2 linked regions of the Homo sapiens genome follow. The protein of the gene in region 1 purifies or fractionates together with the protein of each later gene. This does not show direct contact. Each region holds a gene or a part of one and is shown on either strand. Other genes may lie near its edges. The genes, in order: ASB5 and AKR1B1.

Evidence for each region.
Region 2: the proteins of ASB5 (region 1) and AKR1B1 purify together in Homo sapiens (affinity purification with mass spectrometry, with the first as the bait; one large-scale study listed by BioGRID). This does not show direct contact.

What each region holds. Positions count from the first base shown.
Region 1 is NC_000004.12:176,259,153-176,262,973, reverse strand, and holds part of ASB5 (ankyrin repeat and SOCS box protein 5), read left to right. Parts: intron 1-3,821. UniProt on the Homo sapiens protein: May be a substrate-recognition component of a SCF-like ECS (Elongin-Cullin-SOCS-box protein) E3 ubiquitin-protein ligase complex which mediates the ubiquitination and subsequent proteasomal degradation of target proteins.
Region 2 is NC_000007.14:134,445,537-134,449,357, reverse strand, and holds part of AKR1B1 (aldo-keto reductase family 1 member B1), read left to right. Parts: intron 1-238; coding exon 239-361; intron 362-864; coding exon 865-971; intron 972-1,296; coding exon 1,297-1,378; exon of another isoform or gene 1,379-1,976; coding exon 1,977-2,060; intron 2,061-3,821. UniProt on the Homo sapiens protein: Catalyzes the NADPH-dependent reduction of a wide variety of carbonyl-containing compounds to their corresponding alcohols.

The sequences.
Region 1 (3,821 bases):
GTTTGGAGGGGACAAATATCAAAACCATAGCACTTAATAACTTTAGATTTGGAGAAATGCATAAATATTTTAAGTTAAAAAATTGACATAGGTGGTGATAGTTTAGGAGGGATCAGTTTTCCTAGGAATATTCTTATATCTTTTGTTCATCTCTTCCTTCCTTTAATCATTCAGTTAGTTGCTCATTTATTACTTACAACATAATGTACTTGCCCAACACTTATTTATGTATCTACCAGGTCAAAGGCATTGTGCTAGGCCCTAAGGATAAACTATAGAAACTAACCACTGTCTTTCCCAACAGTGTACACAGTTTAGTGGAAGAAAGATGGATAGGCAAGTAATTTTAAAACATGGAAATTGCTATTTTACAAGATTAAAGAAGGTGCTATGGGAAGGTGCTATACAGAGAAATGTATGTAGAGCTAAGAATGGTTCTGCCTAGGATATGCCAGTTACACAGAAGCCATACTAACAATACACACATTCTCTCACACAACTAAGCATGCATCCTTATTCACAATGCTCAAAAACTTGCCAAGTCCCCACCTTCACTTCCTACCAACTTTTTCACTTCTCAATTTGTTATTTCTGACTCATATATCTCTTACCTAAAGCTTTATCTTAGGCTCAGAGTTCTGTTGTTAAAAGAATTTATTTTTAGGAAGGACACAAGTATGCTTTGTGAAAAATGGAAAATATTTTGATGAAAAAATTTCAAAATGGATTTTGTGTACTTTGATAGGGGACGTTGATATTGTCAACGTTTTAAAATTTTTTACATAGTAAAGATAGAAAAGGAATGAAAACTAGGTCTTAACTTTCTGCTTCTCAATTTACTATCTCTTTTAGAAGACAGTGAATTATTAAAATAAGCTATTTTTCTTATTCATTGCCATAACTGCTATAGCTTTGAATGTAGCTTAGTTGAATAAATACTGGGATATCTACTCTCTTCCTGGCACAATGTTGTGTACTACATGCACATATACCAACATATCTGTAATATATATAGTATTTAATAACTATAATATGTAATACATAACTAATATATAATATAAAATGCATACTATATCATGTATATAATTTCTGTATTATATATATGTATATGTTTGCCATGTGTGATATATGAGTAAAAGCAGAAGGCTTGGATGAGCGGAGCCAAACATTGCAGAAGTAAGACAACCTAAACAGCAAGGAGGTAGAAAACCATATGGCGCTAAAAGGAAAACAGTCAAGTTTTGCAATTGATGTTCTCCTCTAAGTCAGAAAGGGAAGAGATTGAGGTCATCTGAGACTGTAAGCACTTCATAAATAAAGCAGAGCTTAAGGCAGAAATCCAAAGGCAGAACATATTTGGTTATGTAGATGTGGAGATGAAACCAAGCTAAATATAAAGAAAAAAAGAGGAAAAGTTTAGAATGTGGAGCCAAACAAGGCTGTCTCATCTGGAGCAAAGGTGGAAGTATAAATGTCAGGGATGAAGAAACGTAAGTTGAGTGGTTGATGCTAATGGGAAAAATAAACACACATTTCGAAGCATATATCTAAAAGTCAGAAGTTCTGTTAAGAACTTTCTAATACCTTTACAGGATTCAGCATATGAAAAAGGGTCGCTAGCTAATGACGGAAATAATTACCACCATAAATATTTTACAAAATACTTGGTATAATGATTTAATATGTCATTATGTGTGTTTCATGAAGTACATCTCAGAGAAGATGGAATACCTCCCCAACACTGACTCAGCACTGCGCATCCTCAGAGTGGTTCCATGGTAATTCTGTGGACTTGGGCAACAATTTTAGCAATTAAGCCCATTTTCTAAACTGCAGAGGAGAGAAGAACAATTATCCCCAGTGACAGATAAACCATGCCATTAAAAGCAGGTGAAGTATTTGGAACACCTCTTCCTCCAAAGCCACCCTCAAATAATTTTTAAAAATTAAAAAGACAGAAAGCATTTGCTTACTAGTGATGTAGAACTTTTCGCATTTCTTGCCGACGTGGTGGCTCACGCCTGTAACCCCAGCACTATGGGAGGCTGAGGTAGGTGGATCACGAGGTCAGGAGATTGAGACCATCTTGGCCAGCAAGGTGAAACCCCATCTCTACTAAAAATACAAGAATTAGCTGGGTGTTGCAGCACGTGCCTGTAATCCCAGCTACTCGGGAGGCTGAGGAAGGAGAATCCTTGAACCTGGGAGGCGGAAGTTGCAGTGAGCCGAGATTGCGCCACTGAACTCTAGCCTGGCAACAGAGCTAGACTCCGTCTCAAAAAAACAAAACAAACAAACAAAAACAAACAACAGCAACAACAAAACAAAACATTATCAGCTGCATAGGGAACAAGTCATTTATTCTTTCCAGCCTTCCCTCAGCAATGCTACAAAGCAGACCATTGGCTTTTTAGACTGGAAATGCCCAAAGAATATCATGTCAGGGAGGGAGAGGCTTAAGGAGTATCATAAATTGTTAAATGAATACTGAAAGAATCTTCCAGGTGGTCTGTGATTAAACAAGTCCACTCTGTGAAATTTAGGTTAAAGGTGAACATTTATTAGATGATTTTTTTTCTCAATCCTCATTCTACAATTCCTCATTGGTTACCATGGAAAAGGATTTTAAAAATCTGTCTTATAGATTTAAGATAGATTAATATCCCATATTTAAGGTAGATTTAAGATTTTTCTAGAAGGCCGTCAGGGGCTCAGAAGCTAGGGTGGTGTGAGGGGGCAAGGTCCCCATGGGTCCCCTTCCCCCTTTCGAACAGAACAACTCTACTTTCATAAATCTTCATAAGTTGGGCTTTAAAATAGTAATAATTTTTTCTTCAAAGAAAGGGATAAAATAATATTTAAAACTAGACTGTCCCAGTTTATGGAAAATATTATTTGTTACACATATCTTTACAGAACCTAACCATCTGATAATATGAGTCATAGCTGAATATCCTTTCGAAATTCTTTCCTAGGGATTAGATGAGCAGCAAACATTTGGGGCCTGTCAGGCATGTACATAACTATGTGAAATGTCAGGAAGGCATCCTCTCTCTATCAGGGCAGCTAAAATTTCCATGCCACCGGTACCCACTGAGTAAAATAGAAACCTTCAGAAATACACATACTCTTTCCAGAAGGCTTATAGTCTTAAACTATGGGTAGAGTACAAACAAACTGAAATTTAACACCAAAATGCCATTCATGTTTTTAAATAGAAGCACTGGCTCACCTCAGCTGTCAAGTGTGCAGTGTGATTTAAATGAAAGCTGACAATGATAAAATTTAAGTGAAGGCCCATCCATTGGAAATCTGCTCTTCACCATCATAATGCCGCAAAGTCCCTTGTGAATTAAATCAGGTAAGGCTGTCAAAGTGAGAAAGGAAGCAATCCTTCTTCTAAAGCAGTCTCAAGACTTCTTCTAAAGCAGACTCAATGCACTACAAGAGCTGTTAAATAATGACCATGGAAACAGCGGTGACTTTGGTAGTGACTCAACCCCTCAGTAGCAACCAAATACATCTTTGATTAGCCACTGAGGAGATTTATGTGCACTTATGTTTTCCAAATTCTACTTCATTCACTAGAGAAATGGTGTTTCCGTCATTCATCAAGTAAAAGTAATAGTTCATTTTTAGAATGAAATGATGCACCTAATGAATTCTTGAATTTGGAAGTTTTGTGTCTTACTTCCATCTTGACCTGTGATCTAGAATCATGAATTTGGAAAAGGAAAAAGTGCTAATTCTTTAGAGCTCAAATACACAGGTCGCAGATCTGTTGCATCCAGGAAAGAATAAATACTTCATTGTAACTCCAA
Region 2 (3,821 bases), on another chromosome or scaffold:
GCCTCAGCCTCCCAAAGTGCTGGGATTACAGGCGTGAGCCACCGCGCCCGGCCTGTTTGCTCTTCTTATCTCATTAAAGCCAGCCTGGCTTTCGTCTCACTGTCTCTTAGCTTCTGAAAGGTCTAATTCACTGGCACTGAAGAGTGAGGGCAGGACCCGTTAAACTGGTGCAAACGACACTTCTGATCCTGTCCTTTCTGGGTTCGTTTCTGCACCACACAGACACTTTTCTCTGTAGGCCATGGAAGAGCTGGTGGATGAAGGGCTGGTGAAAGCTATTGGCATCTCCAACTTCAACCATCTCCAGGTGGAGATGATCTTAAACAAACCTGGCTTGAAGTATAAGCCTGCAGTTAACCAGGTAAACATCCCCCAACGACACTGGCATTGCAACGTTGCTGTTTTACTGTCTGATGCTGGTAGGGATTTCTCGTCCACCTCACCCAGCAAGTGGCCAGGAGGCAGCTCCTGGGTGTTGGCAGAGTCCTGAGTTATGATTCAGCATGACACAGCACATCTGGGAGAGGAAACTTACAGGAAAGAAAGAGTTTGAGCCTGGCTTGTGACGATTTGGGGTCTGACAAAGAGGCAGCCATGAGATCCTCAGAACTGTGATAGTTGATAAGTGGCTAAAGCCAAGAAAAGCCTCTAGGGCCCATGAGAACATCTATAATAAGATAATAATAACACCAAGGATACTACCTGGGAACTGTAGGAAGTTACAGCTTATCTGGGAAATAGGGTGTTTGTTATACATAGTTTTCTGTATGGGGTAGGGAGGGACTTTAGCATAGGAAGCTTCATCTGTGTCCCATCAGCGTGTAGCCACAGTGCTCCCATCAGCTCTTGTTTTTGCATTTGCAGATTGAGTGCCACCCATATCTCACTCAGGAGAAGTTAATCCAGTACTGCCAGTCCAAAGGCATCGTGGTGACCGCCTACAGCCCCCTCGGCTCTCCTGACAGGCCCTGGTGAGCTTCCCACAGGCTCATGCTCCTGTGTCACTTGGTGAAGATTAGAAAAGACTAAAAAGAACAATTCAGCCTCAAGGAAGATGTTTCTGGGGGTGATCTGCAAAACTTCCCCTGAGCCTCTTGCTGGTTTTCCTGGAAGGGTTGGAGTTTCTAGTAGCAAGACACCTACTCTTTTTCCAAAGGGTTGGGGGTTCTTAACCCAGCTCTGAGGAGGAGACTGGTGGCTGCCCTCTGAGGTCGATGGGAGGATTAGGGTTGGGGTTTCTGGCTGCTGTGAGTGGTGGCCATGATGGTGTGACCTGGACTGTCTTTCTATCCTCAGGGCCAAGCCCGAGGACCCTTCTCTCCTGGAGGATCCCAGGATCAAGGCGATCGCAGCCAAGCACAATAAAACTACAGCCCAGGTACAGCCACTTCAGGTGTTGCTGACCGTCCACAACTGCCTGCATTCCTGACAGTCCTGTTAGCCAAGAGGAGGAAGTGACTGAGCCTGTTACACCCTCACAGGAAGTATGGTTAGGGGTCCTCAAGTACAGAGTGGAAAGGGCACAGATCGGGGTTTTAGAAGACTCTGGCATGGGCTCTTAGATTAATAGTGCCTGCCCCCACTACTGCAAGGGTGACTGCCACGAGGGCCAGCGCTTGTTCATTCATGTGGAACCTCATCTGTACAAATGTAAGAGCTCTTAGCCGTGCAGGGAATGTTCTTTCTCCTGAGTGGTAGTGTGCATTTCTAGCCAGTGGAGGGCCTCATGTGGTCTCATGATATGCCTGAGACACTGAAGCGTGTGGCACAGTGGCTAGCGCAGGACTCTGGAGTCAGATCTGGACCTGAATGCGTCGCCTACCTGTTGCTAGCTGTGACCTGACATCTTGGAGCCCCTCTCTGATCACCTGTGGAGTTCTAGCACGTCCTTCTGCAGGTTGTGTGTGTGAGAGACTGAGATGATGGGTGCGAGTGCCTGGCATGTATACACACTCACTGTCTCCTTGGGCTCACAGGTCCTGATCCGGTTCCCCATGCAGAGGAACTTGGTGGTGATCCCCAAGTCTGTGACACCAGAACGCATTGCTGAGAACTTTAAGGTAAGATCTTGGCTGGTCAGGCCTGGCCCTCCTCCATGGAGTGGGGGATGGGGGAGGCCTCTCATCCTGTCTCTGGAGTGTCATCTGTGGGATCACCACCATCCTCTCTTCTGAGGCCAGGGAGCTGTGGCGAGCAAGCCAAGACTGAGACTGACACCTCACCAGTGGAGCCGTGTGCAGGGGCAGGCCTTGGGCCTCCAGGGCCCCGTGCTGTGCACGCATACACCTACACCTTTGCTCAGGCCCTTCAGCCACACCGAGAGGTTACCCGGGGAGAATCTCGCTCTTGAGCTTCACTGCCTGGACCTGCCCTGCACTGGAGCTCTGTCAGCTACCAGCTGCATAACCCTGGGCAAGTCGCTTAACTGCTCGATGCCTCAGCTTCCCTATCTATAAAATAATATCCATTTTGAGGGTTGTTACGAAGATTAAGTGATGCATCAGAGCACTTCACATGGTGCTTAATACCTTAGTAAGTGATCGAGAAATGTTGCTGTGCTGATAAGTCCAGGGACTGCAAAGGACCCTCTGGGCCATTTAGTCCATTCACCAGCTCTGCAAGGAGTTCGTGTGATGATGGGCAGAGCCTAGACCTGTGTCAGGACTCTGGCGAAGCGCTCAGTGTGGCAGCTGGAGCAGCTCAGGCTACTTGGCGCCACCTCCCTCCCTGCCTGCCCTTGCAGCATTGGTGGCGGGGGTGTGGGGGAGGGGGGGGGCACGCCCAAAGGAGAGCAGCTCAGGGGAGTCCTGATGGCCCAAGAGCCTCTGTTCTCACTGAGCAAAGTGGCTCTGCCAGGGATGCTCTGTCTTTATCCAAGATCTGTGCCGAGCGCAGCACAGCCATGGGCCTGGGGCTCTTGGGCAGGCCCCAGCTTAGGTGAGCAGCTGATTTTGCCCAATTCCACTGCCCAAAGACTGTGGCCATAGTGCCTGCCACCTGTCACATATGAGACAGGGATGAGAGTGATCCCTGAAGAGGGAAGTGGAGCTCATTGTTTAGGAGAGGAGACGTTTTTCTTCTTACGTGCAGGTAGATGTTCTAAGTACACAAGATAAAATGGCAAAACAGTGGCCACTGAGGGAAAGGCATATCCCACCAGAGATGCATCGTTTGTTTCGTATTTCATTTTTTAAGGAATTAGGAAAGAAAAAATAAATGACTAATCTCAAAATGCTAACCTAATTATTTTATTTTTGCATCTTACTGTATAGCTTTTGCACATTTTTCTGTGATCATAACCACAGAGCCTGTAGCAGACTCTCTTTCTGCACATTCTGTGATCATCTGAAGCTAAGAGCCCTTCGGCTCTGGGAGTGTGTGTCAGCCTCTTGTGGGTCTCACCCAGTGGTGCCTGCCTGCCTCCCTCCCTCCCAGCCTCCATGCCAGCTGAGTTCTGTACCGTCTGCTGCCTTCATGCAGGTGGTTCTCTTCTCCCAGTATACCTTTCTTGCCCTCTCTGTCAAAATCTTATACTTCTTAGGCCATGTCAAATACCATCTCCTCTTCGGCTGTGGTTGTTCAGTTTCCCGGCTGGAATCCCTTTGGAATACCTCTGCCCTTCCTGTGCTGTTGAGTGTCTTATACAGTGTGTGATTAGTTATTTGTATTACAGTTGTAGAAATACCTCTGCCCTTTGTTTGCTTCATAAAATAGAGGCAAAGACACATCTTACCCATAATTATATTCCTCACTGCAACTTATCACAATAGAAGTGCTCAGTAGTGTTTTTTGAAATGAAATAAAATGTATCATTTCCCTGG